3 linked regions of the Homo sapiens genome follow. The protein of the gene in region 3 interacts with the protein of the main gene of each other region in a pairwise test. Each region holds a gene or a part of one and is shown on either strand. Other genes may lie near its edges. The genes, in order: COG5, PSTPIP1 and MEFV.

What was found.
Region 1: the proteins of MEFV (region 3) and COG5 interact in a two-hybrid assay, tested with the Homo sapiens proteins (one study listed by BioGRID).
Region 2: the proteins of MEFV (region 3) and PSTPIP1 interact in binary tests that used the Homo sapiens proteins (3 or more experiments, as listed by UniProt).

What each region holds. Positions count from the first base shown.
Region 1 is NC_000007.14:107,558,563-107,569,866, forward strand, and holds the start of COG5 (conserved oligomeric Golgi complex subunit 5), read right to left. Parts: upstream 5,359-11,304; 5' UTR 5,335-5,358; coding exon 5,241-5,334; intron 1-5,240. Other genes in the region: DUS4L-BCAP29 protein, read left to right, coding at 8,509-8,624; DUS4L (tRNA-dihydrouridine(20a/20b) synthase [NAD(P)+]-like), read left to right, coding at 8,509-8,624.
Region 2 is NC_000015.10:77,009,663-77,020,201, forward strand, and holds part of PSTPIP1 (proline-serine-threonine phosphatase-interacting protein 1), read left to right. Parts: intron 1-8,485; coding exon 8,486-8,586; intron 8,587-8,794; coding exon 8,795-8,869; intron 8,870-10,539. UniProt on the Homo sapiens protein: Involved in regulation of the actin cytoskeleton. May regulate WAS actin-bundling activity. Bridges the interaction between ABL1 and PTPN18 leading to ABL1 dephosphorylation.
Region 3 is NC_000016.10:3,245,845-3,256,383, reverse strand, and holds part of MEFV (pyrin), read left to right. Parts: coding exon 1-73; intron 74-1,593; coding exon 1,594-2,226; intron 2,227-6,603; coding exon 6,604-6,953; intron 6,954-7,379; coding exon 7,380-7,475; intron 7,476-9,137; coding exon 9,138-9,368; intron 9,369-9,836; coding exon 9,837-9,859; intron 9,860-10,539. UniProt on the Homo sapiens protein: Involved in the regulation of innate immunity and the inflammatory response in response to IFNG/IFN-gamma.

The sequences.
Region 1 (11,304 bases), on a different chromosome or scaffold from region 3:
CATTGCAATCCAGCCTGGGTGACAGAGCAAGACTTTATCTCTGGCCGGGCGCGGTGGCTCACACCTGTAATCCCAGCACTTTGGGAGGCCGAGGCAGGTGGATCACGAGGTCAGGAGATCAAGACCATCCTGGCTAGCACAGTGAAACCCCGTCTCTACTAAAAATATAAAAAAAATTAGCCGGGCGTGGTGGTGGGCGCCTGTAGTCCCAGCTACTCGAGAGGCTGAGGCAGGAGAATGGCGTGAACCCGGGAGGCGGAGCTTGCAGTGAGCTGAGATTGCGCCATTGCACTCCAGCCTGGGCGACAGAGCAAGACTCTGTCCCAAAAAAAAAAAAAAAAGACTTCATCTCAAAAAAAAAAAAAAAAAAAAACCATAACTACTAGCTATAACTATTAATCCAAGAAAACAAGATCATTGTCAGTGAAAAGACAACAGGAAAATTGACTCTATATATATATATACACATATGTAATATTTATGGCCTCAGATATCTCTAGATCAATACACAAATACTGTTATAGCAAAGTGAATCTGGAATTTTAGTAACAATAGGAAATATAAATTTATAGGTGTTACTGAAATTTAGGATTTATGGGTGAAATATGTTAATGGAAAGAAAAGCTGTTTAAAATAGGCCCCTAATAGACAGAAAACAGAAGTAATACCAGATGTTAAAAAGATACCCCTCAATATAGAAATCCACAAATATGTGGATGAAAGAAAAATTAAGAGAATTGAAAGCTAAAAATAGATACCCAGAAGGGAGCTCATGGTAACCATGTACCAAATCTCCTAATGATACAGTAGATACAAGTAAAGCTGCCTTGAGAGAGATTATGAAACAAACAAAATAGAGTACTTTTAAGAAAACCTAAATTGTCTACATCTGCTATAATGTATGCTCCAAGAGGGGAAGAAGGTCTTTGTTTTGTTTGCTAACTCTTCTCCAGTGTCTGAACAATACCAGACACATGGCAGGTTCCATGAATTAACTAATCTATACATCAGCTGATGTATCATTAGTATCATTCTGGTAACAACCAACAACAAAAAGTAAAGGCTCATACTCTTGATTATTCTTAAAATGTAGTGGAATGAAAGAAGGAAACTGCTACTTTGGCTGCTTTTAAGTCTGAGAACCACATTTCCTTCTGATTTGCCAAGTGCTTCTCAGAATTAAGAGTCCTGTCAGCCAGACAAATGAAAAAAGCCATTCCAAGCAAAGGGAAGGTTTAGCAGTGGCAAATGCCATGGCATATTTTGAGAAACAAGGGGAATACTGATTTCAGTGTGTCTAAATCATAGCACATGTATATTGGACAGAAATGGTAAAGAATGACAGATGTGGTTCCAAAGGTTGGAGCGCAGTTTGAAAAGAGGTTTGTAAGACATTTGAAATGTTTAACCATATCTCATTTAACCCAAGAAATTGCACTATCAGCTTTATGTTACAGAACAATAATCCTGGCAGCTGTATAGAGGATGATGGAAAAAGGATTAGTCACACAGCAATGTGCTGAAGTTGCCTCTTATTGGCTCTTGAGCACAGACTGTTACATTTTCAGGAATTCTGTGAGCCAGTTGACCTTTCACACAGATATCTTAAAATCTACGATGGTGAGAGTATTTACACCATGGTAATCAGCAAACACTACAAAAATCAGGGCTTTTTCTATTTTCCCACAAAGCCAATTAACCAATACACCCAAGAAATAGAACCACAGAGGCCAGTAAAGTACTATGTTAACAGCCTAAGACATAATGAAGGCCCGACTAAGACCTGAATAAGTGGCACTAAGAATGTCAAAGTGACAAATTTGACAAATATTCACACTGCACAGGATGTAGGACTTAGTGACAAGCTGAAAATGGGTGATTAGGTAGAACAAACAAGGATTCCCAAATTTCTGGATTAAGCAACTGATACAGGAAATTTAGTTTTACACTAACTTAGACCACTAGACACTGAATATACCAAGATGAACATAAACTTCTGCCTCCAAGGAATTCATAATTTACAAGGGGAACAAGCACACATTTACCTAACAACATAGTAAACACAGATAACAGAAACTACCAGAGGAAAAGATTAGGAGAGAAGAACAGAAAAAGTGAATTCATTTCATTTTTTCATATGTAAACCTTGTACTATTTGTTCATATGTAGGTTTTCATGTGTATTATAGAACTAGCACTGCTTGTTTACTATCAAAATAGAAATGTCCATACAGGTTATGGAATGGCATATCATAAAAAAATTAAGATAGAAATGTCCAGTAGGCAGTTAAAAATATAGTTTTATAATTCAGAAGACAGGTAAGGAGCATACTGAAACCACAGACAAGACCAGATGATTTAGGAAAAAAAAGTTTTAGAATGCACAAAAAGGCAGGAAAATGAGGAAGATAGGAAAGTGGGGGGTGGACAGAGAAAATGAAAGCAATCAAAGAGACTAAAGAGTGCTCAGGGAGAAAGAGAAACAAAAAAGAATGGCAAAAGCCAAAAGAAGGGATAAAGAAAGTAAGTATTAGTATTGTCATAGAGCTTACAAAGATCAAACACAACGGGATGTGGCATTTGAGGGCTGACAGCCTTTAAAGAGATGAATTATATAATGCTTCTCTTTTATAGTTTCCTCATTCCCATAGAGGGCATATCAGAAACACCTCACCAATTTTCATACTATGCATCTGTGCTCACCAAGCCTATCAATCCGATACTCTGTCATTGGCCAAATCCCCGATATAGTGAATCAAAGTTTCTGCTGGAAATGCTTAATTCCTCAGGAATGTTGGGGGTGGAGGGGCAACAGAGACCGCTTAATTCAGAACAAACTGAACTGACAAGTATCTACAGGAACCTGGAAAAGAGCACCTAGAGAATTAAGAATTTTTAAAAAGCACGGCACCCATAAACCGCATGAGGAAAGTATTTCAAGAAAGGAATCAAATGTTATTACAAGTTAAAGGACCAAAAAAGTGTCCATTTGTCGTATGTGCAAGAAAGTCATTGAAAACCTTGCAAAGTTACTTCAATGGCATAGATTGAGGGTGACTGAGTCCCCAGGAAACAGGAAGAAAAAATCCAGAGCAAAGTAGGAGGCACTATCCTTAGAACGGAGCAGAGACTCGGCCGGGCGTGGTGGCTCACGCCTGTAATCCCAGCACTCTGGGAGGCCAAGGCAGGCAGATCACGAGGTCAGGAGATCGAGACCATCCTGGCTAACACGGTGAAACCCCGTCTCTACTAAAAATACAAAAAATTAGCTAGGCATAGTGATGGGCGCTTGTAGTCCCAGCTTCTCAGGAGGCTGAGCCAGGAGAATGGCGTGAACCCCGGAGGCAGAGCTTGCAGTGAGCCGAGACTGCGCCACTGCACTCCAGCCTGGGCAACAGCGCGAGACTCCGTCTCAAAAAAAAAAAAGAAAGAAAGAAAGAAAGGAGCAGAGGCTCCACTTCCGTTGCAATTGAAAAGGCAAGGGAAAAAAGGTGCAACAGATGGTTATACGTTGAGGTTAAATTCATAGGTTTGATGGGCAAGAAATGGAGAAAGTTCACATCTGATGGATCCTCTTTTTCTCCCCAGGGAAGCTTAAAGTCATTTGTTGAGCTTGAAGCGAAAGGTTTGAAAAGGGTAAAGAAGATTTAAACAATCACTGTGGAGAATGGCAGAGAACCAAGGAGGAAAATACAGAAGGCAGAACTGAAGAGTATTTACCGTCCAAGAACTGATTACAATTCCTGAAATACATCCTACTGAAACATATATCCAATGTTCCACTGTTCACCTGGGGAAGTCCTGTCTACAGTTTAAAACGTCTCCACCTAGAAAGCCTTTTCTGACATTTCCTAACCAGTTTCCAACCCCCAGTTATCATTCTCCTCTGTATTAATGCTCTACTTTATATGCAATCCTACTGCTATCTTACATCACTATATTACAGCACCTACCTTTATAGTCTACAAGATTATTTCCTCTACTAGATGGTGAACTACTTGAGGGCAAAAATTGCACGTGTATCAGGAGCAACTGCAAATATATCAGGGTCTCTGCCTTGTATCTAAAGTTTAAATTCAGTTTAGCCAAGTTTTAGACAGAGACCCGGTCCTAGAGTTTCCAACATGAAATAGTTCAGAAAACATCATTGCTTTTGACAAAAGTACATAAATTATCATGAAAAGGCACGTAATTCAGGATGACAATAAAATATTTAACAGTCAGAGAAAATAAACAATAATTTGGAACTTTATTTCATTTATTACCCACTTCGGTCTTCAAATGTGTGCATGTGCTTCTAACTGCGATGATGAATTTAAAAAACATTCTGCACCTACTGTATGCAAGATACTGCTATTCACACTGTGGGATATTAAAAAAAGTTTGCAATACAGAAGAGATTAAAACAAGTATACAAATGATTTTAGTACAAGGTAGAATGCGATGGCCACTAGAGAAAAAATTAAGAACAGGTGAGAAGGGCTTTATTTTTATGCTTATAAATGTGAACTTTATTCTGAAGGATAAGAGATTCGGGACATGGTAACTGGATTGACACAACTGAATATGCTTTTCAAGTATATTATATCTAACTTTTCTTATTTTGGGCAACTTCTCTCCAAACTGACTAGCAATAAAATCTGACTGCTAGATTCTGTACAAATGGTTAATCCCAACCTGAACAAATGTCTCAAACCCTCCCCCACGTGTCACTGTAGATAACTGCCTCATAAAGGAGGAAAAAAAAAACCAGCCTGTAAGAGGGGTCACCTGTACAGTCCATTTGTTAAAGGAGTAAGCGTTTCCAGCTCTACTTTAAAACAAGGCCCTATTTCATTATGCGTCTGCCGTCTGTTCTAGAGCTTACACTTTTGAAGAGCTCGAACGCTACACCCCTTCGTCAAGAACTGCGGCAGCAGCCGGTGGCTGCCAACGCGGTCCACAGGGTTTGGGCTCCCGAAACTTCAGGGAAGCTGGAGGCATGGGGGGGGGGGGGGTCGAGTTGAAATGAGGAACACACAGAAACCAAGTGTCCCCAAGACTCCAGAAAAGAGGGAGCCAGTCCCAGAGTAAATAGGTTGGCTAGAACAGTACCCAAGCCAGGGGGCCGGGCGGAGGGGAGTGGTCACGTCCAGACTGGAAAACTTTCTGCAAAGCAACGGGTTGGGTCCACCTCGCTGTCCAGGTGCGGAGCAGCGCAGACCCCCAACCCCACGACCTGGTCAGACCCCGTCTCCTTACCGTCCTGCAGAAGTTCCCGGACTGTAGCTGCAGCCGCTCCAGAGCCTCGAGCTCCGAGGCCAGCTACAGCGACGCTGCCGCCGCCACCTTCCATGTTGGCAGGTGCCGGGTTGATGTCGTCAGCAGCAGAACGGCTCCGCCCAGGTGGTGACGCAGAATCCCGGCGCCGCCCGCCCACCCAGCCCATGGCTCCAGGCCCACCTGGCGAACTGACTCTCAGCCCGCGCCTGGGCTAAGCCTGGCTAGGAGCCGCGCAGGTACTCGAGCAGTGGGCGCCCAGGGTCCGAGTGCTCTGCGCCCAGCGCACCGAGGGAGCCAAGGCCGTCGGGCCGGCGCTTTCAGCTGTCTCTCGCAGCAGCTCAGGGCCGCGCCCCCTGGGCTGGCGTCGTGCCCTAGCCAAGGAGAAGGTGGGCACCGGAACGTGGCCGCAGCGCTTATCTGTGAAGCAAGTATTAAACCTCAGAACAGGGGCCGCGCGGCGTAAGGCAGGAGAGCAGAGCGGAGGTTTCAGGGAGCTTCGTTTGCCCTCCACACTCACAAGAGTCACGCGTTAGTTGCTACACAGCTTTATCTGTTCCACGCCTTGATTGGCACTCCTGGGGTAATAAAAGCCCGCAGGAAATGCTTGGGAAGAAAAGTTGCTGGGGATGAACAGTGAAGAGAATTAGGGAGAGTCGATGAAGAAGGAAGTCTGAACCATAAAAGGACCAATAAAACTCACTGTCTCTACCCTCCTTCCTTCCCATGAGACCTTTGACCTTTTGCCTTTTCTACTTCTTCCTCAGTTTCAGTCACGTGCCAGACTTTTTCTTAATTACAAACTGATAGATGGTCCACATCTCAACTAACAGTATTGACGCTGTAAGAGCATCAGGTTGGTTCCCATTGTATCTTCTTTACTAATACGTTCGCGTTTTTGACCTAGATTTCTTTCTTCTAAGATAAATACTGATAAATTAACAGGGTCAGGCAACCACAAGTATGCAAGACAGTCTTAAGCTTCTTCGCAAAAAGAAGCTGGAAGATGACTTTTTCATTTTGTACAGTAGGTATGTATCCAGGAAACCAATTTTATCCAGTTCCAGAGCTACGTGGTTTTCTACATTCTGTTTCAAAAAGGTGCTATTACTTATCCTGTGCTTATCGCTGTTCTAAGTATTTTATAACTCAATGCATTTCATACTCATAACACCTCAGGTAAGCAAGTCTTATGCTACACTGCATTATGCTCTCTTTGTCTCAGAGGATTTTCCCTAGTATGTAAGATCTTAGTCATGATGGGAATAGGGGTGATTCATTCATTACTTGTGAATTAGGAATTGTTTTTCCTTCCTTGGCTTTATTCCCCCCAGTGGAAGATTTTAGAAGAGTGAGTAATATTCATTCATACAGCGAAAGTTTTGACCCCTCTACTCTGCATGCTCTCATGAGTTTACAAACATAAGACTCAATCCATATTCTAAAAGGAGTTAATAGGTAAGGTAGGAACCCATTTAAACAAACAATTGTACCAGGTGCTTTGGAATCTTTGGATTTACTTATTCCAGTAATTCCAAGCTTAGCTGCACATTGAAATCACCTGAAGAGCTTTAATAAAAACACTGATGCCTGCATCCTGAGCCCAGACGTTTGGATTTAATTGGTCTAGGGTATGGCTTGGGCATGCTAATTCTTAAAAGCTCCTCGGGTCATTGTAGTGTACAACTAAGGTAGAAAGCTACTGATTGTTTTGTTTTGTTGAGTTGGGGTCTAGCTCTGTTACCCAGGCTGGAGTGCAGTGGCAGGATCGTGGCTCACTGCAGCCTCAACCTCCTGGGCTCAAGGGATCCTCCTGCCCAAGCTTCTGGAGTAGTTGGGATCACAGTCGCTTGCTACCACGCCCAGCTGATTTTTATAATTTTTTTAGAGATGGGGGTCTCACTATATTGCCCAAGCTGGTCTCAAACTCCTGGCCTTAAGCAAGCCTCCCACCTTGGCCTCCCAAAATGCTGAGTTTACAGGTGTGAGCCCAGTCCCCTGAAACCTACTGATTTATTCTTTCAGCAAATAAATATTGAGGCCTTCTGTATGCCATTTACTATGACTGCAGGAGTGGATAAAAATGAAGTAATTCTTGCTAAAATCACTAATGACCTTGTTGCCATTGCGCTTTATTTTTGCCTTACTTTGATGTTTAAGATACCTATCCCCTCCTTCCTTCATAATGGTCTCTCTCGTTTTCTGAGTATCACTCTTTAGGTTTATTCCTCCCAGCTCCAAAGTTCATCTTCAGTCTCTTTTGCTCTCCCCTTTTCCTCTGTTACTTAAATATTGGTGCTTCCAGCGGTTTCTTGCAAGATCCTGACATCCTTAAGTACCTTGGCTATTTTTAATTTCAACTCCTTGCCTAAAGGTTAAAGACTCTAAAGTTTGAGCAATTAGACCATTCTAAAGTTGGCCCATATCTGATTCTTTTTTTTGTTGTTGTTATTTTCTGCTTCATTTTTCCTTCATACATACCTGTTTCTAAGTTACTGAGGCCAAGGACTGGAATATGAAAAGTAGCCAACACTGTGAAATAGTAGGATTTTAAGTATAGCAAATGTAAAACATTTACAAACTCCATAATTTCATCACTCGTACCTGTACCTCTTGGGGTATAAAAGTGATTTACAATGCAATTGTAGAATTATAATTGAAATTTTCACTAGATAATATCACATTAAAATTTTTAAAAATAATTAACGTTTGTTTATCTTCTGATTCACAGACAGAACAGGATTCAAGAATTACAATAAAAGCACCAGCATATCTTTTGAAACACTGACTACTTAAGAGTTGCTCTATTAATGCCATTTAACTTTCCTGAATAAAACAAGATATTTCCAAATGCCAGTCGAGTATCATATATAAAATAATTCAAACCAAATTTCTTGGCTTACCAATCCCAACAAAGTAACATGTAAAAAATTTTTAAATAACATGAAAACTTACAACATGGTAAACTAGGGAAAAAAAAAAAATCTCGTTTTCTGCATCTTGTGTTTCCACAACTATCTTGGGTAGTTTTCCACATCTATTTATCTTACAAATAGAGGCAGCATTCTATAGTATCATATTGGATACTGTGAAAATAAGCTATTAATAAAAAAATTTCTGAGCCCACAAGCCTGATAAAAAATATATGTTGTTGGCAGTTGAAATTGTTAGAATGGAATTAATATAGTGAAAACATATTTTCTCTATACAAGCTTATTGTCTTTTTCAGATTTGAAACATATCTGTATTAATGAAGAGTGACTGCATGCAAACGACAATATGTCAGGAAAGAAAAAAAGATCCCATAGAAATGTTTCATTCTGGACAGCTGGTAAAAGTCTGTGCCCCAATGGTTCGATATTCAAAGTAAGTGTTGCAAAATGATTAATGAACTAAGATGAAATTTCCCTTTTATGCTCTGACTTTTTAAAAGTACTGTAAGACCACCCACCATATGGGAACTTCAAACTCTTAGCTTTGGAATCATGACTTAGAATTGAGTCATGATGCTACTACTTGCCTAGTATATATGTGATCCTGAGTAAACAATTAACTTCTCTGAGCTGCACTTTTTATATCTATAAAAATGGTGGTGGTTGTAACTCCTACCTATAAGTATATAATGGATATTAAATAGATATAAGTATTGATGTATAGATTTTTATGTGAACTTAAGTCTTGGGACAAATAGGAGTGCAATTATGGGTCCTAAGGTAGTTGTGTGTTCAGTTTTCGAAGAAATATTTCTTCGTATCTTTTGCTCATCTTCTAATTGGATTGTTTGCTCTTTTACTATTGAGTTTTTTTAGAAGTTTGTTATAAAATATACGTAACATAAAATTTACCTCTCGATCATTTTTAAGTATACAGTTCAGCAGTGTTAATTACATTCACATTGTTGTGCATCTGATCTCTAAAACTCTTTTCATCTTAGAAGATGGAAATTCTATCACATTAAACTGTGACTCCCCATTCCACTGTTCCTCACAGCAGCCCCTGGCAACCATTATTCTACTTTCTCCCTCTATGAACTTCACTACTCTAGGTACCTCATATAAGTCTTATACGTATTTGTTCAGAACTGGATTTATTTTGCTAATATTTTATGCAGCATAACATCCTCAAGGTTCATTCATGTTGTAGCATATATCAGACTTGTTCCTTTTTAAGGCTGAATAATATTCCATTTTATGTATATTTTGTTCATTCATCTGTTGATATCCATTCATATATTGATAGAACACAAGATAACTTCCACCTTTTGGCTACTGCAAATAATACTGTCATGAACTATGGGTGTACAAATACCCATATACAAATACCCATGGTTCGTAACAGGTCTCTGAGACCCTGCTTTCAATTCTTTTTGACTATGTACCCAGATGTAGAATTGCTGGATCATATGGTGATTCTATGTTTAATTTTTTGAGCAACTACTGTACTGCTTTCCATAGCAGCTGCACCATGTTACCTTACCACCAGCAGTGAACAAGAGTTTTAATTTCTCCACATCCTCATCAACACTTGTTATGTTCTGGGAGTTTTTATTTTATTATTATAATCATCCTAATGGGTGTGAAGTGGTATCTCATTGCAGTTTTAATTTGCATTTCCCTAATGATTAATGATGCTGAACATCTTTTTGTGTGTTTATTGGCCATTTGTATGTTGTCTTTGTAGAAGTATCTATTCAAGTGCTTTTGTCCATTTGTTTGTTTTCTTGTTTTCTATTATACTCTAGATATATATTCTGCTTTGTCAGATGTGTGATTTGCACGTATTTTCTCCCTGTATATGGCTTGTCTTTCATGCTCCTAACAGGATCTTTTGCAGAACAAAAGTTTCATTTTAATGAAGTCTAACATCAATTTTTCCTTTTGTAAATTGTGCTTTCGATGTCAAGTATAAGAAACCTTTATGTAGCTCCAGATCCTGAATATTTTCTCCTAAGTTTTTTTCCCTAAAAGTTTTATAGTTTTATGTTTTGCATTTAAGTCCATGATCAATTTTGCATTAACTTTTATGTAAGTGTGAGGCTTAGGTTAGGTTGCCTATGGATGTCCAATTACTCCAGCATCATTTTTGAAAGGCTATCAGCCAGGCACAGTGGCTCACGCCATCAAATCCTAATCCCAGCACTTTGGGAGGCCGAGGTGGGCAGATCATTTGAGGTCAGGAGTTCGAGACCAGCCTGGCCAACATGGTGAAACCCCATCTCTACTAAAAATACAAAAATTAGTCAGCGTGGTGGCGCATGCCAATAGTCCCAGCTGCTGGGAGGCTGAGGCAGGAAAATCGCTTGAACCTGGGAGGTGAAGGTTGCAGTGAGCCAAGATCGCACCACTGCACTCCAGCCTGGGCAACAAGAGTAAAACTCCGTCTCAAAAATAATAATAAAAAAAGAAAGGCTATCTCTCCGCTAATTCTTTGCTTCTTTGTGAGAAATCAGCATTTTCTGTTTTGTTCCATTGATCTTGTATCTTTTTCCCCACCAATACCACACAGTTTTACTATATAGCTCTATAATATGTCTTGAAATCAGGTAGACTGGTTCTTCCCAATTTATTTACTTTTTCAAAATTGTTTTAGCTATTCTAGTTCCCTTGCTTTACAAATAAATTTTAGAATGACCTTGTCTATCTCTGCAAAAAACCCTGCTGGAATTTTCATAAGAACTGTGTGAAACCTATACCTCAACTTGGGAAGAACTGACTTTCTTACTAGGTTGAGTCTCCCAATCCATGAACACAGTATATCTTTCCATTGATTGAGATTTTCTTTGATTTCTATCATCAGTATTGTGTAGTTTTCAGCATACAAGTTCTGCACATGTTTTGTAAGACACCCAGGTTTTGAGCATGTTTGTAAATAGAATTTTTAATTTTTGGTGTTCACATGTTTATTGCTAGCACATAGAAATAGATTTTTGTATGTTGATCTTATATCCTGAAAACTTGCTAAACTCACTTGTTGGTTCTAGTTTTTTTGTAAATTCCTTCAGAGTCTATATGAACAACCATGTCATCTACAAATAAGGACAGTTGGA
Region 2 (10,539 bases), on a different chromosome or scaffold from region 3:
CAGGTGTTGTCCATTCAGTCCTCAGAGCCCCTGGAAGTGGGTGATGCTCTCATCCCGATCTCACAGAGGAGGAATCTGGGCTCAGGAGGTTTGTGACTCATGCAGACTGTGTGGAACTGGCCAGAACCAGAACCCAGTGCCTGAGCCCTGTCACGCCCCACTGCCTGGACTCGCTGTGGGCCTGTCCTCCCCTGGGACATCCCTGGCAGGCGTAGGTGGTGTGGGAGGGCAATGCCTGGGGACGGGGATGTGCAATGACAGTGCCTGGACCACTGGTGCCCCTGGCTGGTCACTCACAGGCGGGAGTCCATTCGGCAAGGAGCCGTGCTCTTCCTGTGAAGACGCCTGGACCCCTCCTGGCTGGCTACAGGGTCAGTGCCTCCTCCAGGGCTTGGGGTCTGGGGTGGCTCAGCTCCATCCTCCCCTGCATCAGTCACCCCCAAGGGCCCACGGCCTCCCTTCCTCACTTGCCCTCACTGTCGGCCTCCTTCCTCGCCCACTGCTGGATCCTAGTGAGCCTCCAACTGCCAAATCAGCTTGGCAGGGGCGGTACAGAGCTGTGTAACCTGGACAAGTCACTGTTATCCTCACTTCCTTGTCTGCCTGTAAGATGGAACAGTAACAGCACAGTACTAACTTGACGGGGTTCCCTGAGGACTGGAGGGGATCATGCGTGAGAGCCCCACCAGGCACCGCACACTCAATCCCTTCCCCTGAACCTGGAACCTGGTCCTGGTTCCTATGACCTCCTGGGAAGGTCCTGCCCTTTGCTGTGTGTGACTTGGCTCTCCTCAGTCTGGCCTCAGGCCACCTTACAGACACCTGCTCCATCTCCCTGCACCTGTCTCTGCTGCCTTGAAGCAGGTTGCACAGGAACAGCACTAGCACTGGACTTCCAGGCAGCTGAGTCTGAGGGGCGTGTCTCCATCTACCTCTGGCCGCCTTGTGTTTGCTCCTTGCCTCCTCTCTCACTTTTCTTCTCTTTTCTATTTCTTTTTCTTTTGAGACAGGGTCTTACTCTGTCACCCAGGCTGGAGTGCAATGGCTCAATCTCGGCTCACTGCAGCCTCTGCCTCCCAGGTTAAAGTGATTCTCCTGCCTCACCCTCCGAGTAGCGGGGATTACATGTGCCCGCCACTACGCCCAGCTAATTTTGTATTTTTAGTAGAGACAGGGTTTCACCATGTTGGCCAGGCTGGTCTCAAACTCCTGAGCTCAAGTGATCCACCCCTCTCAGCCTCCCAAAGTGCTGGGATTTCAGTTGTGAGCCACCACGTCCAGCCCTCTCTCTCTTTTCTGCATGTTTTGGTTTCATGACACAGGAGAAAGAAGTGGGGATTGGGCTGGCCCCATGAGAGTGAAGGAGGGGAAGCAGGCGGGGAACTCAGGCAGTGGGGTGCTTTCCTGCCTCATCATTGAGAAGGCCTATTTAAAAGAACAAAGCTTTCAAGCCAGACAGACCTTGGTCAAAAGCCAGACGCCCCACAACATTAGAGAGAGTCACCTCTCTTGTCTTCACCTTCCTCATCTTCATGACAGACAGTAGCTGCCTCGTGGTCAGTATTGCTGAGGGCAGGTACCACACTCATGCACAGTGTGTCCTTGTCCAGTGCCTGTGTTGTCCCTTCAGTGGGACCCCTGGGAGTCCCTGGAAGCTCACAGGGCTCTGATGGGGTCCCTGTCAGCCACGGGCCTGTGGGCCTCCCAGCACAGTGGAGCCCAGCCCAGGCATCTCTGGGACTCGGCCAGCTGGGCTGCTCAGGTGAGGGGCCCTGTAAGGCCCGGCAGAGGCCATCAGACTGGGACTCGGAGGAGAACTGTGGCACTCTGGAAACTCATTTCTAATCTCAAGGTCCTGTCAGCCCAGGTGAACAAAGAGTCGCTCATCTGACATTAATGCACATTTGTTCTCTAAAAACTAAAAGTCTGTCTTTGCCTTCTTGGCCCTCTGTCTTCAACACTTACCCTGGGCCATCTCAGACAGCTGTAAGTCATCTTCATCCCATATTTATTTGCTTATACATGGATCGCAGCAGTACTTGAGTCAGGGGACCCCTAGACACCAAGTCCCTAGTTTAACAGGCCATCTGAGGCTTGAGTCCTCTCTGTGGAACCAGACCTGCTTACAGACTGTAGTGATGGGCGCTCCTCACCTGTCAAAGCCCCCCACCCTCTTTCCATACCTACAGCCATTCAGGCTCCTGGGAAGCCTTTCCTTGCATTGTCCTGGAGTTGGCCTCCCTGTCTCTGCCCCCATGAGTCCTGGCTTGGGCTGGGAAATGCCAGCCACTAGTGCTCCCTCTGCTTCTGATGGCCCCACAGAGATCTCCAGGTGAGACTTTTCCTAGGCCATTCCCTCACAGCTTTGGCTTGGAACTCTCCCTTCCCTCCCTATCACCTCCTCCCAAATACTCTGGGTAAGCAACCGCCTTGTTTACTGAGGGCTCTGGCCATCCATCCATCCATCCATCCATCCATCCATCCATCCATCCATCCACCCACCCACCCACCCACCCATTCACCCATCCACCTGTCCATCCATCCATCCGTCCACCCATCTGTCCATCCATCCATCCACCCACTCATCCATCTACCTACCCATCCACTCATCCACCCATCCACCCACCCATCTACCCATCCATGCATCCACCCACTCACCCATCCCTCCATTTGTCCACCTGTCCACCAGTCCACCCATCCACCCACCCACCTATCCACCCATCCATCCATCCACCCACCCACCCATCTACCCATCCACCCATCCATCCACCCACCCATCTACCCATCCACCCATCCATCCACCCACCCATCTACCCATCCACCCATCCATCCACCCACCCATCCATCCATCCTTCCATCCATCCATTCATCCATCCATCCATCCATCAAGTTGTACCTGAGTGTTTGGTCCTTTGCCTGCCTCACTTTGCCAACCAGTAATGGTGGAGAGGAGTCCCACTGTGGGGTACTGACTGTAGGGCGGTGGAAGGAGCCTGGTTGCTACCCATTGACTTAGCATCCCTGTGCCTCTGTTTCCGTATCTATACAATGGGGATGATAATTCCTGTCTCAGAGGACTGTTGTAAGAAGTAGAGGGGACCAGTGTGACTGGCTTCTTTAAAGGTGCTGGGTAATGGGTCATTGAATCTGCAAGCAAATGATCTGGTCCCCTCCATGGGGCACCTCAGGAAGCAGCCGTCATAAGGCCTTGTCCTCTTGAAGGCCTCACTGAGGCGCTTCTCCAGCCCATCACTCAGCATGTCTGTGAGCAGAGCTGTGTGTAGGCACCAGGTGCCGGGATCCAGTGGGGAACCTGAAAGACCCCCCTCTGCCTCCATGGAGCTCAGCCCTTCCTACCTCAGGTTTTCAGTCCACAGAAGACAAGCAACAGGAAACTAGGTGCTAGCAAACCCACAGTGTCAGCCACACTGGCTGCAGATGTCACTGCTGGTGTGAGGGAGGAGAGCACCCCAGCACCATGCAGCTCCGTGCAGCTACCTTCCAAAGCTGCTGCTACGTCTTGCTTCCCCACCTGTGGCCCATGCTGGAGCTTTCCCAGTCATCTTCAGGTGTAACCCAATCCAGTCCAAGCTAGTATCACAATTTCACTCTCATTCAATTTAAAGCTCCCCAGTTCCCCGACTTTCACTGGAAGCCTCTGATGGGGAAAAGAGAACAGGGTCAGTTTCCTCCCTTGCCATGGGGTACCCACACTGCACTGCCAGCTGCCTCTGGGGTCTCCATGGGGGGGTGGTGGGGCACAGGCCGTGACTGTAAAGGGGAGAAACATCTCATTGCCCTGGTACTGTTGTAACTGGTGACAGTGAATGCACACAGGTCAGCCCTTTCTCTCCCTGGCACCTGGGCAGGTTTTTTGGTGACCCTGCCCCCCTGGAGTCCCTGACCACTCCGTTCCCTACAGCCTTCCACTTCCAACCTCTCCCGTTGCACCCAATAGTCTGCTCCACTCAGCTTCTCCTAGGGGCTCCTCTCTCCCTGTCAGGCTATTCTCATGGACAGAATTACCAGGCAGCTCTTCCTGGCTACCTTCCACGGCCCCCACTTGGTTCCCAGGGAAGATTTTGGTGCCAGTTCTTGGACATAGCAGGTAGGAACTCGGACCAAAACCCAGGTGTCCCCCTCCAAGGTTGGAGGCTTAGCTGTCCTCTGATAGATGCTGTATTCTGGAGTGCCAGGCAAGGGAGCATTTGAAAAAGGCTCTGCTCCCCTTTAAATGGAACCTCTGGTGGAGGAAGGTGTGTAGGGCGAGAGGGGAGGTGATGAGGTGACTCATTTCTTCCAGCCTGGCCCCAGCTGAGGGAAGGTGTTTCTGGTCGGGGAGGTGGCAGGCAGGCGGGGAGGGCTCGGGGAGCTGCTGCTTGCTGAACTGCCCCTGGGTGACAGGCCCTGAGTGTGGGGCTTTGCAGAGAGGCAAAGTAATGGGAAGTTAACAGCCAAGATCGTGGCTTGGGATATCTGGGTTATATCCCAGCTGCACCCGGCAGGTCCCTGGGCAGATTGGGTAACCTCTCTGGGTTACCTTTTCCTCATCCATAAAATGGTAGTCATCACCCCTAGCCCAGTATCTGCCTTGTGGTGAGCCCTGATCTTGAGTCCACTGTTCTCACCTATGCGCACGATTTCACTTGCTTCTCGGGTCACCTCTAGGCGGTGAGAACTATTAGGCCCATTTTCACAGGGAAGGAAACAGGCTGAGAAGGGCCAGGGTCACGGGAGGTGTGAACCCACATCTAGTCAGTCAGACCCTTCCCAGCCTCTCAAACAGGCCCGAGTACCCTCTCTGACCTGTGGCCTACACTAACAGGACTGTGCCCTAGAGGGGCGGGCTGTCAGGGCCCGAAAGGGGGTTAGCCTCCTGCCCCCACTTTCCCAATGAGGAAACCAGGTCCTGAGAAGTAAAGTGGCTTGCTTCAGGCCCTGGTGTCTGTGGTCTCGCCCCTGCAGCCACCAAGAGTTATGGGCGTGAAAAGGGGGAAGTGGCGGTAGTTACAGAGGGTGCTTCTCCACTCAAGCCGTGGGGGTGTGGAGGGCCCTGGCCGGCTCACAGGCCTGGGCCGTGGCTCACACCAACACCCACCAGAGAATGAAGCCAGTAGGCTGTCCCTGACAGAACAGGGCACCCAGGCCTTGGCCACACTGCCTCAAGGCAGAGGCAGGAATATGTTTCCTCCCAAGAGCCTCCTCCTGGAGTTCTGGGATGCCGCCTGAGGCCGATGGCCACACACCATGGACGGCGAGGGCTGGGTCCCACATCTGGCTCAAGTGAGCCTCCCAGAGGAAGAGACTGTGCCCGCTCCCCACCTGGCACCCCTAATCCAGGACGGGTTATCCTGGGTGCCACATGGCTGGGCCGTGACCACTGGCTGTTCATGGGTTACCCAGAGCCGCACTCCTCTGACCCAGCCTGGGCCCCAGGCTAGCCTCTGTGAATCCACAGTAACTGAATTATAGCCCAAAATACAGCTTTGATTTGAGGTGGAGATAATTTGAGTAATCATTTTCAAGAGTTATTTTTTCAAATCATGTTTGGATGTTCCAAAATAGAAAATGGTTCCTGGGCTGTCTACTAAATGGCTGATGTAGGTATATGGCTTTGGGGACAGGTTGACCTGCATTCAGATCCCAAACTCTGCCCTTTACCCATTGAGTGGCTTTGGGCAGTCTCTTTCCCTGTTTGGGCCTCCTGTCCCCATCTTCGCCTCCCGAGATCTGTGTTGTGGTCAGGAAGATAACGCTATGATACCCTTGGTGCAGTGTGTGCCAGGTAGACTTGATAAATAGAGATTTCACAAAGGGCAGGGCCACAGGCAGCATTCGGATGACAGAGGTTGGACAGGATGAGGGGAGATGGAGGTAAGAGGAGTGGGGGACAACTAGGGTAGGTCCCCTGGGGGTGATGCTGATGCTGGGTCTTGGGTGGCAGACCCACATGACTGATTAAGTTACAGGATGATTGGTTCATTCATTTCCTAAACACATCCTGAGCCTGACTGTCCCAGCTCAGAGCACGGAGTCAGACCCATGCCCTCGAGGAAGTGGCAGGGGTGGGGGTGAAGGAGGAGGGCGCGGGCTGGGGGAAGGGGTGCAGGGCTGGGAGGCATCGTGAGCAGCCCCTGGAGAGTCAGGCACTTCCTCGGAACATCCCAGTCCTTGTGACAGTAGCTCACTCGGCCACAGCCCCTGCCAGCAGCCCAAAGCTCTGAGCGGGGGACTGGGCGGGATCCTGGAGCCTGCAGCCTCTGGGGACTTGAGCACGGCGGTCACAGCCTGCAGGGCCTCTCGCTGCTTTCTGACTCCTCCCGAATGGCCAGCGTAGGTTCGGTTTGCTTCTCTTTCCACTCTGGGGGCCTCCATAAGGACAGGAGAAGGGTTCCCTTGGCGTCAGGGCTGGGTGTGGGGCTGGGCTCCAGGTGGCCTCTCCAGAGGTATCAGGAAGGAATGACAGGTCCCCTGAGAGTCCGGATTCTTGTCCTGACTCTGCAGCGTCAAGCAAGCCATTTCCTTCTCTGGCCTCAGTTTCCTGAGGAGTGAGGGAAGCCGCACAAGGTGGTTCCCAGTTCTCAGGGCGGGGGGGTCTGTGGCATTCTGACATGAATGCTGGTGTCCCTCCGGGCAGGTGCAGGAGGCTGAGGCCCCAGATTTGTTTTTCTTCCCAGCCGCCAGGAGCTCTGACCTGAGGGTCTGGAGTGAGGGCAGAGGCTGAGGGGTGGGAAGGGGAGGGCTGCTGGCTGCAAGCAGCTGCCCACCAAAACCACAGAAATGGAAGCCTGGTCCAAGCTAACCCAGTGATGTCAACCTGGACATGGGGGTGGGCGCCTGCCTCTGAGGCTGGGGGGACAGCTTCTGGCCTTCCAGGCTAGACACGCTGCTTGTTGCTCTGTGGACAGCTGAGCCTGGACCAGGCCCTCCTCAGGAATTTCTAGGGATGCTTATGGAGGGGGTAGGAGCTTGGGGTCCTAAGTGTCCTACAGGCCAGGAGAGTCCACCTGCTGAGGGTGGGCTGGAGTTTGTGGGGAGGGGGGGCACTGTTGGGGCAATTTATGCCATTGCTACCCCTACTTCAGATTCTTCTTAGACCTTGGAGAATACCTTCTCCTTCCAGCACCTGACTCAAATGCCTCTTCCTGCAGAGAGCTCTCCTGGATTTCGACTCCATCCCTGTTCCCCTCACACCCCTAAGGTGGCATTTGAGGGGAGACATGGGTCAGGGGAAGGAGTACCAGGCTTTACCTGAGTCATGTGTGTGCGACCCTGGAGTGTGCGTGACCTTGGAGACTGTAATGTGTGTGGTCAGGGGAGCTGGGACTTCTTCCTCCAGTCTCTGAGGCTTTAGGGGTCCTCAGGGATAGAAAGGAAGACAGACTAGGTGCGGAATGTCAGGCCTGCCTTGGTGCAGTTGGTGACAAAAATCCTGTCTCCCCAGCACCTCTCAAGCTCCCCTGGAGTAAGCCTGCGTGCAGTGCCTGGGAGAGCTCAGGGGGTTGTGGCGGGGATCCTGGCCCCGGGACCCACTCCCCAAGCCTGGGAATGTCCTGGGAGACCTCTGTTCCTTCATAGTCCTTAAAGACTACCTCCCTCCCCCAACTTCTCACACCCAGCTTCCCACACCAGCAGCTCAGACACACACCTGGAATCCACTGCACAGTGAGAAAGGAGAATTGGGTTGGCCAGGAACAACAGCCAGGGCAAGCAGGGCAAGTGCCAGGCAGCAGAGGGTAGCTGTCCCTGGAGAGTTCTCTGAGGCTCCCCACCCCACCCCAGTCCAGAGGTGAATGTAGGGTGTGCTTGCGCATGCTCTGACCTGGACTGAAGTCACCCTCCATGCCCACCTCCCTGGATCTCCGTGAGGGGGGGTTTCCTGAGCCCACAGAGAGCCCAGCGCAGCATCTGGCACATGGCTGGTGCCCAAGAAACCGCAATTGCTGTGATGGTCATGGAGACTGCACAGTGCTGAGGTGAAGGGCAGGGACCCCAGCCAGACAGCCTGGGGTTCAAGGCCAGGCCAGCCACTTTCCAGCTGGGCCGCTCTGGATACGATCACATGTCACCCTCCTACACCTCGGTTTCCCCACTTAGCTGAGATAGGGATATTGGAAGGGTGGCACTGTGAGTGAGTGAATTTCAGGCCTGGCTGTCATCAGGGGGACTTAAGGGTGGCTCTTCCCATCTGCTATCTCATGCTGATGTGTGTCCTGTCCTGTGAGCTCTCCAGATGCCAGGCCCGGCACCCCCGGCCCTGTCAGCTGGGTGGGGCTCACTTATGTACCTGTCACCTCTGCAGATGTGAGGGGACCTCCTGTGTGCCTGTGTAAAGCCAGGTCTGGAGTCCCAAGAGCTTGCCCTGAGCAGGGGAGATGGAGGCAGGAGGGAGGCTGTTCCCAGAGATGGTGGGAGGGTCCCCACAGGGCTGTGCTCAGTGTCGCCTGGTCGTGGCCCTCATGTGTCCTTCTGTCCTGTGTCACAGTGCAGGGACTTCACAGCCCACACGGGCTACGAGGTGCTGCTGCAGCGGCTTCTGGATGGCAGGAAGATGTGCAAAGACATGGAGGAGCTACTGAGGCAGAGGTGAGCTGCTGGGCAGGCCATGGGGAGCGCAGGCAGGAAGCAGGTGGCTTCCGCTCGGCTCCTGGGACAGTGGACGAGGCCCCCATCCCAGCCAAACTCTGTCAGAACACGCCCTGCTTTAAAAAACTCTTCTGTGTTCCCTCAAACCTGGGCCTCCCCCAGAGGTGGCAAGTCACTGATGATCTTTCAAATGCCCTTTTTTTTGCAGGGCCCAGGCGGAGGAGCGGTACGGGAAGGAGCTGGTGCAGATCGCACGGAAGGCAGGTGGCCAGACGGAGATCAAGTAAGATCTCCCGGGCCCTGGGGCTCACTCCTCTCCTCTGCTGGCAGTTTCTGGGCCTTTAGATGAGGTTTAGGTCTTCCTGGCATGGGGGAGGCTGGGCAGAACCAGGGTAGGTCTGGATTGCTCCTTGGTGCCTGGTTATTGGGCATTCAGGGTGAGGCCAGGTTCTGTGAGGGAGGAAGCCCGAGGGTCTGAGTTCTGGAAAGGGTCTGGGCAGGGGAGACAGGAGGCCATCCATCCTCAGTCATTTGCAGCGCAGTCTGCACCAGCCTGGGTGGCCTCCACTGAAGTCCTGAGGGGCAGGTGACAGGCGTCTCCACTGGTGGCTCAAGTCCCCTGCAGCACTGGCTCAGCATGGGCTTCAAGGATGGAGATGTAGCCAGAGACAGGGGTCCAGGAGGGGACACACCTGGGTTCCGGTGTCAGCTCCTCACCCCCCAGCTGTCTGACCATGGGCTGGCTGCTGACACACTCTGTGGCTCCGTTTCCTCATCAGTGATGGGAAAGTAACGCAGCCCTCCTCAAAGGAAGAAGTGGGCCCATGGGCTTAGCTGAGGCCTGGTTAGAGGGCAGGCCGTCAGGGAAGTGGCTCTGATGAAGCGGGAGTCTCCAGCCCCACAGGTCTCTGCACGCAGACTGCTGGGGTGGGAGGCCAGGTGAGGAGATGAAGGTGAGTTCAGGACACAGCCACCCTAACAGTGGAGTGGAGGGGCTGCTCTGGGAAGGCCCAGACTGTCCCCCTGGGTGAGGACAGAGCCAGGCCAAGGGGCAGACAGACCACCGGCCTCCAACTTCTTGAAAGGGCTCTGCAGAGTCCTCCTGCCGAGGGGCCCTGAGCCTGACCCTGCAGCTGCTGTGGAACCCCTTCCCTTCCTGCCTTCTCCCCCGAGAGAGGAACTGAATGTGCCATACTCTGAAGGTCCCCCAAAGACACCAGGCACCCTGGCGGCTCCTGCTTCCAACCAGGAGCCAGAGATCACAGGAAGGCTTAGATGTGGCATGAGCCGTGTGTGAGGCCAGAAAGTTGCACACAGCCCTGGGAGGACGGAGGGCTCTGAGGAGCCCTTGGAGCTCTGGTCCCGGCTCGGCCAATCTGAGCTGTGGGACTGTGGGCCAGTCGCCTAGCCTCTCCAAGTTTGTTTCTCACCTCCCACTCCAGCGAGCTGCCGTGCAAATCAACAAGAACATGGTCTGAGGGCCTCCCAAGGGAAGGGCTGAGGGCCGGGTGCAGGCTGGGCACAGAGGAGGGCTCAGGACATGGTGAGGAGTGAATGGACGTATGCAGGGAGGTGTTTTCTGCAGGAAGCAGTGCCCAGAGCTCTCAGCCAGGGGAGGAGCAGCTGTGGGGGCCTGGCAGCATGACCAGGGGAGCCCCTCCTGGTCTCCTGGCCTCCCAGCCTCCAGGCCAGCTGGAAGAGAACTTTCCCAGAAAGAGAGGGTACCTCATGGGGAGAACTCAGAGACTCAGGAGAGGTGGAGAGGGTGGCCCCAGCAGGGCACAATGGGAGCCAGGCTGGAGTGGGTCTGTGTGATGCAGGCTCAGGGGATTGTGAGTCACAGGGGATTTACAGCAGGGAAAGAGAAGCTACCCACAGAAAATACAATGGGGGTGGGGAGCAGGGTGGGCCTCAGGAAGCAGGAGGTACGCAACATCTTGCTCCATTTGTAGA
Region 3 (10,539 bases):
CTCACCCTGCAGGTCCTGCGGGCCATCAACCAGCGCCTGCTGGCCGAGGAGCTCCACAGGGCAGCCATTCAGGGTAAGCGGGCCCAGGCCTCCTCCTCATCCAGTGCTGAGTGCTGGCTGCTTTGTGGGAAAGGGGACCAGGAGCTCAGAGCAGCTCACTCTGACCTGGGGATTGGGAGTCTCAGGTCTACCAAAATCCAGATGACTTTAGTTCAGGAACGTCCCTTTCTTCACTCTGGCCTTTGGAACTGGGTTAGTAAACTTCCTTCAGGCTCCTAATGGGTTTTTTAAGAAGCAGGTCAGGGTCACGAAAGGCAGGAGCTGGAACACCTGTTCTTTGAGACTTCTTCACTACATTTATGATTAATACTCATGTCAGACAAACATCTCTAGGTTAGCAAAAAGGGATTGCTATGCAATCATATGAACGGGGTTGGTATAGAATCTTCTCAGTGCTGTTCACCATGTTGGCCAGGCTGGTCTCGAACTCCTGACCTCAAGTGATCCTCCCGCCTCAGCCTCCCAAAGTGCTGGGATTTCAGACATAGGCCACCGTGCCCGGCTTATTTTTATTTTTAAAGCGTATAATCTGGGTTTTGCTGACCTGTGTAAGATCTTATTTGAAACAGTTGTCCTGCTTAAAACGTTTGAAAAGTACTATTTGAGAAATATAGGCTAGGCATGGTGGCTCACACTTATAAATAATCTCAGCACTTTGGGAGGCTAAGGTGGGTGGATTGCTAGAGCTCAGGAGTTTGAGACCAGCTTGGGCAACATGGTGAAACCCTGTCTCTACCAAAAATACAAAAAAATGAGCCAGGCGTGGTAGCACACACCTGTATTTTCAGCTATTGAAAAAACAGAAAACAGGCTGAGGTGAGAGGATTGCTTGAGCCTGGGAGGCAGAGGTTGCAGTGAGCTGAGATCACATCAGGGCAACAGAGCAAGATCCTGTCTCAAAAAATAAAATAAGAGAGAGAGAAATACATAGCAACATCAAGCATGTTCTTACTGAATGGTAATTGACTGCCATTGTCTAGTCTAGGAAGTCCTGAACTTTTGTTTTTGAGATGGAGTCTTGCTCTGTCACTCAGGCTGGAGTGCAGTGGCCCGATCTCAGCTCACTGCAACCTCCACATCCCGGGCTCAAGCGATTCTCATGCCTCAGCCTCCCGAGTAGCTGGGACTACAGGTGCGCACCACCGCGTCTGGCTGAGTTTCTTATTTTTAGTAGGAACGGGGTTTTGCCATGTTGGCCAGGCTGGTCTCGAACTCCTGACCTCAAATGATCCTCCCACCTTGGCCTCTGGAGAAGCTGGGATTACAGGCATGCGCCACCACGCTCAGCTTATTTTTGTATTTTTAGTAGAGACGGGGTTTCACCCTGTTGGTCTTGAACTCCTGATCTCAGGTGATCCTCCCGCCTCGGCCTCCCAGAGTGCCGGGAATACAGGCATGAGCCACCGCGCCCGGCCCGTTGTTTTCCTCAATTTCTAAACTTTAATATCCAAGGGGATTCTCTCTCCTCTGCCCTGAATCTTGGGCCCTAAACGTGGGACAGCTTCATCATTTTGCATCTGGTTGTCCTTCCAGAATATTCCACACAAGAAAACGGCACAGATGATTCCGCAGCGTCCAGCTCCCTGGGGGAGAACAAGCCCAGGAGCCTGAAGACTCCAGACCACCCCGAGGGGAACGAGGGGAACGGCCCTCGGCCGTACGGGGGCGGAGCTGCCAGCCTGCGGTGCAGCCAGCCCGAGGCCGGGAGGGGGCTGTCGAGGAAGCCCCTGAGCAAACGCAGAGAGAAGGCCTCGGAGGGCCTGGACGCGCAGGGCAAGCCTCGGACCCGGAGCCCGGCCCTGCCGGGCGGGAGAAGCCCCGGCCCCTGCAGGGCGCTAGAGGGGGGCCAGGCCGAGGTCCGGCTGCGCAGAAACGCCAGCTCCGCGGGGAGGCTGCAGGGGCTGGCGGGGGGCGCCCCGGGGCAGAAGGAGTGCAGGCCCTTCGAAGTGTACCTGCCCTCGGGAAAGATGCGACCTAGAAGCCTTGAGGTCACCATTTCTACAGGGGAGAAGGCGCCCGCAAATCCAGAAATTCTCCTGACTCTAGAGGAAAAGACAGCTGCGAATCTGGACTCGGCAACAGAACCCCGGGCAAGGCCCACTCCGGATGGAGGGGCATCTGCGGACCTGAAGGAAGGCCCTGGAAATCCAGAACATTCGGTCACCGGTAAATTGTGTTCTTTCCTACTTTATATCGGCTGCAGAGAAAGAATGGCTGGCCGGGCACGATAGCTCATGCCTGTAATCCCAGCGCTTTGGGAGGCCAGGGCGGGAGGATTGCTGGAGGCCAAGACTTTGAGACCAGCCTGGTGAATGTAGTGAGACCCCCGCCATCTCTATAAACGAAATTAAAAAAATAAAAACCCAAAGGTTGGGCAGGGCGTGGTAGCTCTCGCCTGTAATCCCAGAGCTTTGAGAGGCCTGCACGGGAGGATCTCTTGACCCCAGGAGTTCCATACTAGCCTAGGCAACACAGTGAGACCCCATCTCTACAAAATACAATAGTGGCACGCGCCTGTAGTCCCAGCTGCTCGGGTTCACTTGAGCAGACGGAGTTCCAGGCTACAGTGAGCTGAGATCATGCCACTGCACACCAGCCTGAGCAACGTAGCCAGACTCCACTTCTACAAAACTAAAAAAAAAATTAGCTGGGTATGGTGGCACACGCCTGTAATTCTAGCCACTCAGGAAGCTGAGGCAGGAGGATTGCTTGAGCCAGGGAGTTCCAGGCTGCAGTGAGCTGAGGATGTGCCACTGCACTCCGGCCTGGGCAACAGAGCAAGACCCTGTCTCTTAAACATTTTGGGGGGAAAAAAAAAGAAAGAAAGAATGTCCGATTGAAAAAGGCAATCAGGTGTTATCAGTGGCCAAAGAATGGAGAAGGGGAGCTCACCTCTGCAGGCGTCTGCTTGCCAGGGATGGGAGGCAGGGCGATTTTAGAGTCCAGGGAGGGGAAGGGAGATAGGTAAGCAGGCCCAGGGCAGGGTTCCATATGTGCAGGCGCTGTCCCCAGCATGCTTCTTCCTACATCGCATGGACACAAAACCCTGGCCATCTTCTTTTAGGGGAGGGACCTTTAGCCTTATAACAATGTGTAAATGATCTTAAGGTAACTGGAAGTCACCTCTTCCAGTTTGCACTGGTTTTGCTCTGATCTTAACTTCCTCTGGTTTTTGGCAAGGGATCAGGAGGCTCCAGGCCATCTGGATTTTTTTAAGCAGCTGTCCCTATAGGTAAAGAGACTAAAAAAAAACTGTAAAAGAAAAATGCCACCAGTTTAGAGGGTACCGAGGCTATCCAGGTGACAATTCCATGCTCGTGGTGGGGGCAGCATTCAGAAACACACTTTCCTTTTTTTTTTTTTTTTTTTTTTTTGAGACAGAGTCTCAGTCTGTCTCCCATGCTGGAGTGCAGTAGTGTGAGCACAGTTTACTGCAGCCTCAACCTCCTAGGCTCAAGCGATCCTCCCACCTCAGCCTTCCAAGTAGCTGAGACTATAGGTGCTCACCACCACACCTGGTTAATTTTTTTTTTTTTTTTTGTATTTTTTGTAGTTACGAGGACTGTCTATGTTGCCCAGGCTGGTTTTGAACTCTTGGGCTCAAGCGATCCCCCGCCTTAGCCTCTAAAAGTGCTAGGATTTCAGGTGTGAGTCACTACACCCAGCCTATGGAACACACTTTCCAATGCATTGTTGGCTGGAGAGGAGAAATCACAGCACTCAAGGAGGAGAAATAGAATTGGGGGTCCAGGCCGGGTGCGGTGGCTCATACCTGTAATCCCAGCACTTTGGGAGGCCAATGGGGGCGGATCACCTGAGGTGAGGAGTTCGAGACCAGCCTGCCAACATGGTGAAACGCCATCTCTACTAAAAATACTAAATTTGCTGGGCGTGGTGGCGGGTGTCCATAATCCCAGCTACTCAGAAGGCTTCGAGGCAGGAGAATTGCTTGAACCGAGGAGGCAGAGGTTGCAGTGAGCCAAGATCATGCCACTGCACTCTAGCCTGGGCGACAAGAGCAAAACTCTGTCTCAAAAAAAAAAAAAAAAAAGAATTGGGAGTCCAGGGACCCCTGAGACCTGGGAGGGGAAAGGATGTGGTATGCTGCATGAGTCTTCAAATCCAGAAGTCCCTGGGTCTTCCAGTGAGAAAGGACCCTGGGATCTGGAAAACCTAGCATCCTTAGGAATAGTGACCTGAAAAGTACTGAAGTATTTCCCCCCTAATTTTCTTTTATCCCTACTGTATTTTTTTTAATTTTTTTTTTTTTTTAGATATGGGGTCTTGCTATGTTGCCCAGGTTGGTCTCGAACTCCTGATCTCAAACAATCCTCCCATCTTTGCCTCCGAAACTGCTGGGATTACAGGTGTGCACCACTGCACCAGGTCCCCACTGTATTTATATCATTGGGATTCCTGGGTGTCTTCTAGGGCCGCTTCGTTAATCTGATGCAGGCTTAGACCCTGAAAAATGCATATATGCACAGCTTCACAAATGTCACATCAAATTTCAGGTAGTTCTTGGACACTCTGAAGACCATCTTTAGAATCCAAGGGGTTTATGGACACCAGGTAGAAAATCTGGGGAAGACTGGTTAAAAATACTCCCTCTCACAATAACCTCACAGCAATGCATCATCATGGGGTTGAGATTCTACCATTTGCCTTTCTCTCAGCAGAAAGAAAAGCCTATTGGCTAAAGTCCTAACTATCTACTGCTGAGGTAGTCATTAAAATTATGTTTGGTTGTGAATAATAGAAACACCCAAATAACAGTAACCTCAACAGAAAAGAAGTTTGTGCCTCCTTCACATAAATGATACACAGGCGGTCCCAGGCAGATCCGTGGGCCAGGACCCTGGGGTCCTGCTGTTGCTCTGTCCCACCAAGTTTGTCCTCAAGCTTCTGCTCTCAGAAGGTGACGTCCTCATGCCAGGCAGCAAGATGGAGGAACAGAGGGGAATAGTATCCCTCGGGAAAGCTCTAGAAGTTTCTAGAAGCTGCTTGTGACACCTCCATTTACATCCCTTTGGTCATATTATTGTCAAATAGCCACACCTAACTGCAAAGGAGGCTGAGAAATGCAGGGCATTTGGGGGGCAATGGGAGGCAGGGAAACAGGGAAACGTGGACAATTAATTCTATCACGAGAGAAGGAGGGAGAATAATTTCTGGTGACTACTAGCAGTCTCATTTACAGATGTGCTGTGAATTTCTGGGACACTGTGAGGTGGGAGGAGGTAGCAGGGGCTAAAGGATTGAGTGTGTTTCTATTTCTTTTTTTTTTTTTTTTTTTTTTTGAGATGGAGTCTCTCTTGGTCACCCAGACTGGAGTGCAGTGGCGCAACTTCAGCTCACTGCAAACTCCGCCTCCCGGGTTCAAGCAATTCTCCTGCCTCAGCCTCCCGAGTAGCTGGGATTACAGGTGCCCACCACCACGTCCGGCTAATTTTTGTATTTTTAGTAGAGACAGGGTTTCACCATCTTGGCCAGGCTGGTCTTGAACTCCTGACCTCATGACCCACCCGCCTCGGCCTCCCAAAGTGCTGGGATTACAGGCGTGAGCCACTGCGCTCGGCCTTGTGTTTCTATTTCTTCTTGTATCTCGTGGCATGTCTGCTTATGAAGTTGCAATTAGAGTCTTGGAGTAGAGCTATTCATAACTGTTAGGTCTTCATGATGAGTTCCAGTCTTTAGCCCTATAATGCCCCCCTTCTTTGCTTTTTCTTTTAAGATGGCATCTTACTCTGTTGCCCAGGCTGGAGTGCAGTGGTGCAGCATCAACCTCCTAGGTTCAAGCAATCCTCCTGTCTCAGCCTCCCAAGTAGCTGGGATTAGAGGTGTGCACCACCACACCTGGCTAATTTTTTAATTTTTTGTAGAGGTGGGCTCTTGCCATGTTGCCCAGGCTGGTCTCAAACTCCTGAGCTTAAGCAGTCCTCCCACCTTGGCCTCCCAAAGCACTGGGATTATAGGCATGAGCCACCACCCAGCCCCTTCTTTGCTTTCATTTAATGGTTATTGAACTCATATGTGAGCAGTGGTCTATTTATTCCTTCATTCAATACTCATTTTCCAAATGCTTGCATTTGCCAGGTACTCTGCTAGGGGCTGGGATCCAGCTAGGAGCGAGGTACACAAGTCACCATCCCCTGGAAGCCTCCACTCACGTTATGGGCAGCCAGGGATGGGTTCAAGTGGCAAAGGAACACTGGTCAGAATGTCTCTTTCCTTGGCATCACCTGCTAGATCTATGTCTGTGCAGGAGGAACAGCACAAGGCCATGGGTCTTTCTTTAGGATAAATGCCCAAGAATTCCAAGGCTCAGGAATGTCTGAGGTCTGGCCCTTAGCTCTCAGGCCCAGTGGCCTGTTTGCTTCCTCACTGGATGGAAGTCGGGGGAGGACAAGCTAGGAAGTGGGCAGAGTCTAACTGAGAACTCGCACATCTCAGGCAAGGGCTGTGTCCGCTGTGCTTTGTGATACCTCTGTGTAAGCAACTTGGGTTTGCCATTCAGGGGGTTTTTCCACTGCATGTCCCCAGGAAGGCCACCAGACACGGCTGCGAGTCCCCGCTGCCACGCCCAGGAAGGAGACCCAGTTGACGGTACCTGTGTGCGTGATTCCTGCAGCTTCCCCGAGGCAGTTTCTGGGCACCCCCAGGCCTCAGGCAGCCGCTCACCTGGCTGCCCCCGGTGCCAGGACTCCCATGAAAGGAAGAGCCCGGGAAGCCTAAGCCCCCAGCCCCTGCCACAGTGTAAGCGCCACCTGAAGCAGGTCCAGCTGCTCTTCTGTGAGGATCACGATGAGCCCATCTGCCTCATCTGCAGTCTGAGTCAGGAGCACCAAGGCCACCGGGTGCGCCCCATTGAGGAGGTCGCCCTGGAACACAAGGTAGGCACTCCCTGCCTGTGGGCTCTTCTCTGCCAGGCACTTGGACACACTGGGCCTTACTTCATTTTCCCAACAACTCTGGGTTGTTGGTGCATTAACCAGCATTCTTGGGCTGGAAATGGCAAGAACACAATATAAACCAGTCCAGCAAAGAGGGGAGCTACAGGTTTATGTTGCTCAGAGATCCAGGGGGAGCTGGCTTCAGGTATGGCTGAATCCAGAGGCTCAGAGGAAGTGCCTCTCAGCTCTGCTGCCTTTGGCAATTCAGCCATTCCTCCCTCCTCTTTCCTGAGCACCCCTCCCCATGCCGCTGGCAGCAGCACCCTCAGCCTTGCTACCAGAAGGAGATGTTCCCCTCCAGAGTTGGCACCAGCTAAAGATGGCAGGAGCCAAATTCAAGCTTTTCAACAAGTGCTGTTTTTCCAGAAGAAAATTCAGAAGCAGCTGGAGCATCTGAAGAAGCTGAGAAAATCAGGGGAGGAGCAGCGATCCTATGGGGAGGAGAAGGCAGTGAGCTTTCTGGTAAGGTCAGAGGTGGCTGATGGCCCATCCGTCCCTGGGAGGAAGGTGGGAAGAGTGAGCAGGGGTCCCCGAGATTCTGCTGTGGTTCACAGGGCAGCAGGGATGGCCACCTCCTCTCAGGGGACAGAGGGTAACCAGCAGCCAAGGGTAAGCTCATCCCTGTAGAGGGAGACCACCCCCAGCAGGCAGGGGTCACCTCTGAGGATCCTGTCATGCTTTCTCATACTCACCAGAAGATGGTAGAGAGCAACCTATGCCGGTGACTACTGCAGAAAGATGGGATTGAGGAAAAGGGAGGAGAACGCCACTTTCTTTTTTTGTGACGGAGTCTCGCTCTGTCACCCAGGTTGTAGTGCAGTGGTGTGATCTTGGCTCACTGCAACCTCTGCCTCCCGGGTTCAAGCGATTCTCCTGCCTCAGCCTCCTGAGTAGCTGGGATTATAGGTGAGTGCCACCATGCCTGGCTAATTTTTGTAGTTTTAGTAGAGATGGGGTTTCACCATGTTGGTCAGGCTGTTCTCGAACTCCTGAACTCGTGATCCGCCCGCCTTGGCCTCCCAAAGTACTGGGATTACAGATGTGAGCCACTGCGCCCGGCCAAGAACACTTTTAACTTCATAATTTACTCTCTGTTTTTTTGTTTTGTTTCCAAGATGGAGTCTCGCTCTGTCACCCAGGCTGGAGTACAGTGGCACGATCTTGGCTTGCTCCAACCTCCACCTCCGAGGTTCAAGCAATTCTCCTGCCTCAGCCTCCTTAGTGGCTGGAATTACAGGCGCCTGCCACCGCGCCTGGCTAATTTTTGTATTTTTAGTAGAGACGGGATTTCACCGTGTTGGCCAGGCTGGTCTCAAACTCCTGACCTCAGGTGATCCACCTGCCTCGGCCTCCCAAAGTGCTGGGATTACAGGTGTGAGCCATCGTGCCTGGGCTGGTTTTTTTGTTTTTTAGGGTTTTTTTTTTTTTTTTTTTTTGAGATGGAATCTCACTCCGTCGTCCAGGCTGGGGTGCAGTGGTGCAATCTCGGCTCACTGCAAACCTTCGCCTCCCCAGTTGAAGCAATTCTCCTGCCTCAGCCTCCCGAGTTGCTGGGACTGTAGGCACATGCCACCACTCCTGGCTAATTTTTGTATTTTTAGTAAAGACAGAGTTTCCCCATGTTGGCCAGGCTGGTCTCGAACTCCTGATCTCAAGTGATCTGCCCAACTCAGCCTCCCAAAGTGCTGGGATTACAGACATGAGCCAATGCACCCAGCCCAAATTTCCCCATTTTATAAGACAACATTTATATTGGATTAGGGACCCACCCAATCCCAGTAGGACCACATCTTAACTAATTACATCTGCAAGAACTCTTATCTCCAAATAAGATCACATGCTGAGTACTGGGGGTTAGGGCTTCAACGTGTAAATTTTGGAAGGGACACAGTTAAACCTTAACACCAGGTTTAAGGACATTTTCCCAGAGCTAGCCCCAGCCATGCTCAGTCTTTTCTGGAAGGTTCCAGACAATATCGCCTCCTGCTCTGGAATCTAGGCCTTGAAGAGGCAGCATAAGCCCACCTCTTATCCACCTCCAGGAGGTGGGCTTCTGGGGGTTCCTGGACATCCACGTCCACCCACAGCACAGACCCCCATACCTCCCTGTCCTCTGCTCCCCAGAAACAAACTGAAGCGCTGAAGCAGCGGGTGCAGAGGAAGCTGGAGCAGGTGTACTACTTCCTGGAGCAGCAAGAGCATTTCTTTGTGGCCTCACTGGAGGACGTGGGCCAGATGGTTGGGCAGATCAGGAAGGCATATGACACCCGCGTATCCCAGGACATCGCCCTGCTCGATGCGCTGATTGGGGAACTGGAGGCCAAGGAGTGCCAGTCAGAATGGGAACTTCTGCAGGTGGGTGTGCCTGGGCCCGGCTTTCTTGGGTCCCCTGTGCCTATCAGGATGCCTCAGGCTCCCAGCTCTGCCATCAGCCGTGCTGGAACAAGTGGGTGAAGCCCCTAAGGCCTAGGATAGGACTTGGTCTTGGTGACCCACAGTGCCTCTTGTGCCCAGACCCCTTTGATGAGGTCTCTCAGGAGCCCAGGGTGGCCTGGTATCCAGGGGATCTCTGCCATTTCCCAGAAGGGATCAGCAGGGCTTGAGGGCCGTTCCATTGCAGGCCTCGCCACCTGGGATGCCTGAATTCCCGTGGTTAGAATTAGACTTGAAGAAAGGTGCTCCACTTCCACTGACACCCTAGGGCAGGGAGCCCTGGTAAGTGCAGCGGGGAGCTAAAAGTCCAGGAGCCCAGAAGTAGAGGCCAGGAGTCAGCCCAGCCACTAGGAGCCTGGTAACCGACAGTTTCCTTCTTTTTTCTCCTAGGACATTGGAGACATCTTGCACAGGTACAGCGAGGTCCTGTGGTGTACCCTGGGGTGTCTTGCAGAAAGCATATGGGGGAGACAGTCCCAGAAGGGACCTGGGAGGGAGATGTTCCCAACCCCGGGGTCTGTGATTCCAGACTCCTCCTTTTTTCTGCAGCTTCCCAAAGCCTCTCTGGATTTGATAGGGAGAAGGGCATCTGGTCAGCAGGGAGGCTGGCCGGGTATGGAGCTGCAGACTGGGAAGGGTGAATTCAGCCCATCCTGCTGAAACAAGATGGAGGCTCCCTAAGAAACCTTCCGAGTGCATTGTGTCCCGTGCAGTTCATCTGATGAAAGCTGCCCCTTCAGGCCTACTGGTGGCCTTGGGAAGCTTGTTTGGAGTGGAGCTGGGCTAAGCCCAGCAGGAAGGGGAGGGGAGGGAAGGGACAGGAAGAGGCTAAGCCTTAAAATCACCTGGGAGCTTTACAAAATCCCGGTGTCCTTTTGTGTCTGGCTTCTTCACTTAGCATAATGTCTTCGGGCTTCATCCGTGTTGTAACGTGTATCAGAATTTATTTTCTTTTTATGGCTGAATCATAGTCCAGTGTGTGTTCATACATTTTGCTTATCCATTCATGGATATCGGGACTTCTTCTAACTTTTGGTTTGTGAATAATGTTGCTATGAACAAGGGTGTACAAATATCTGCTTGAGACCCTGCT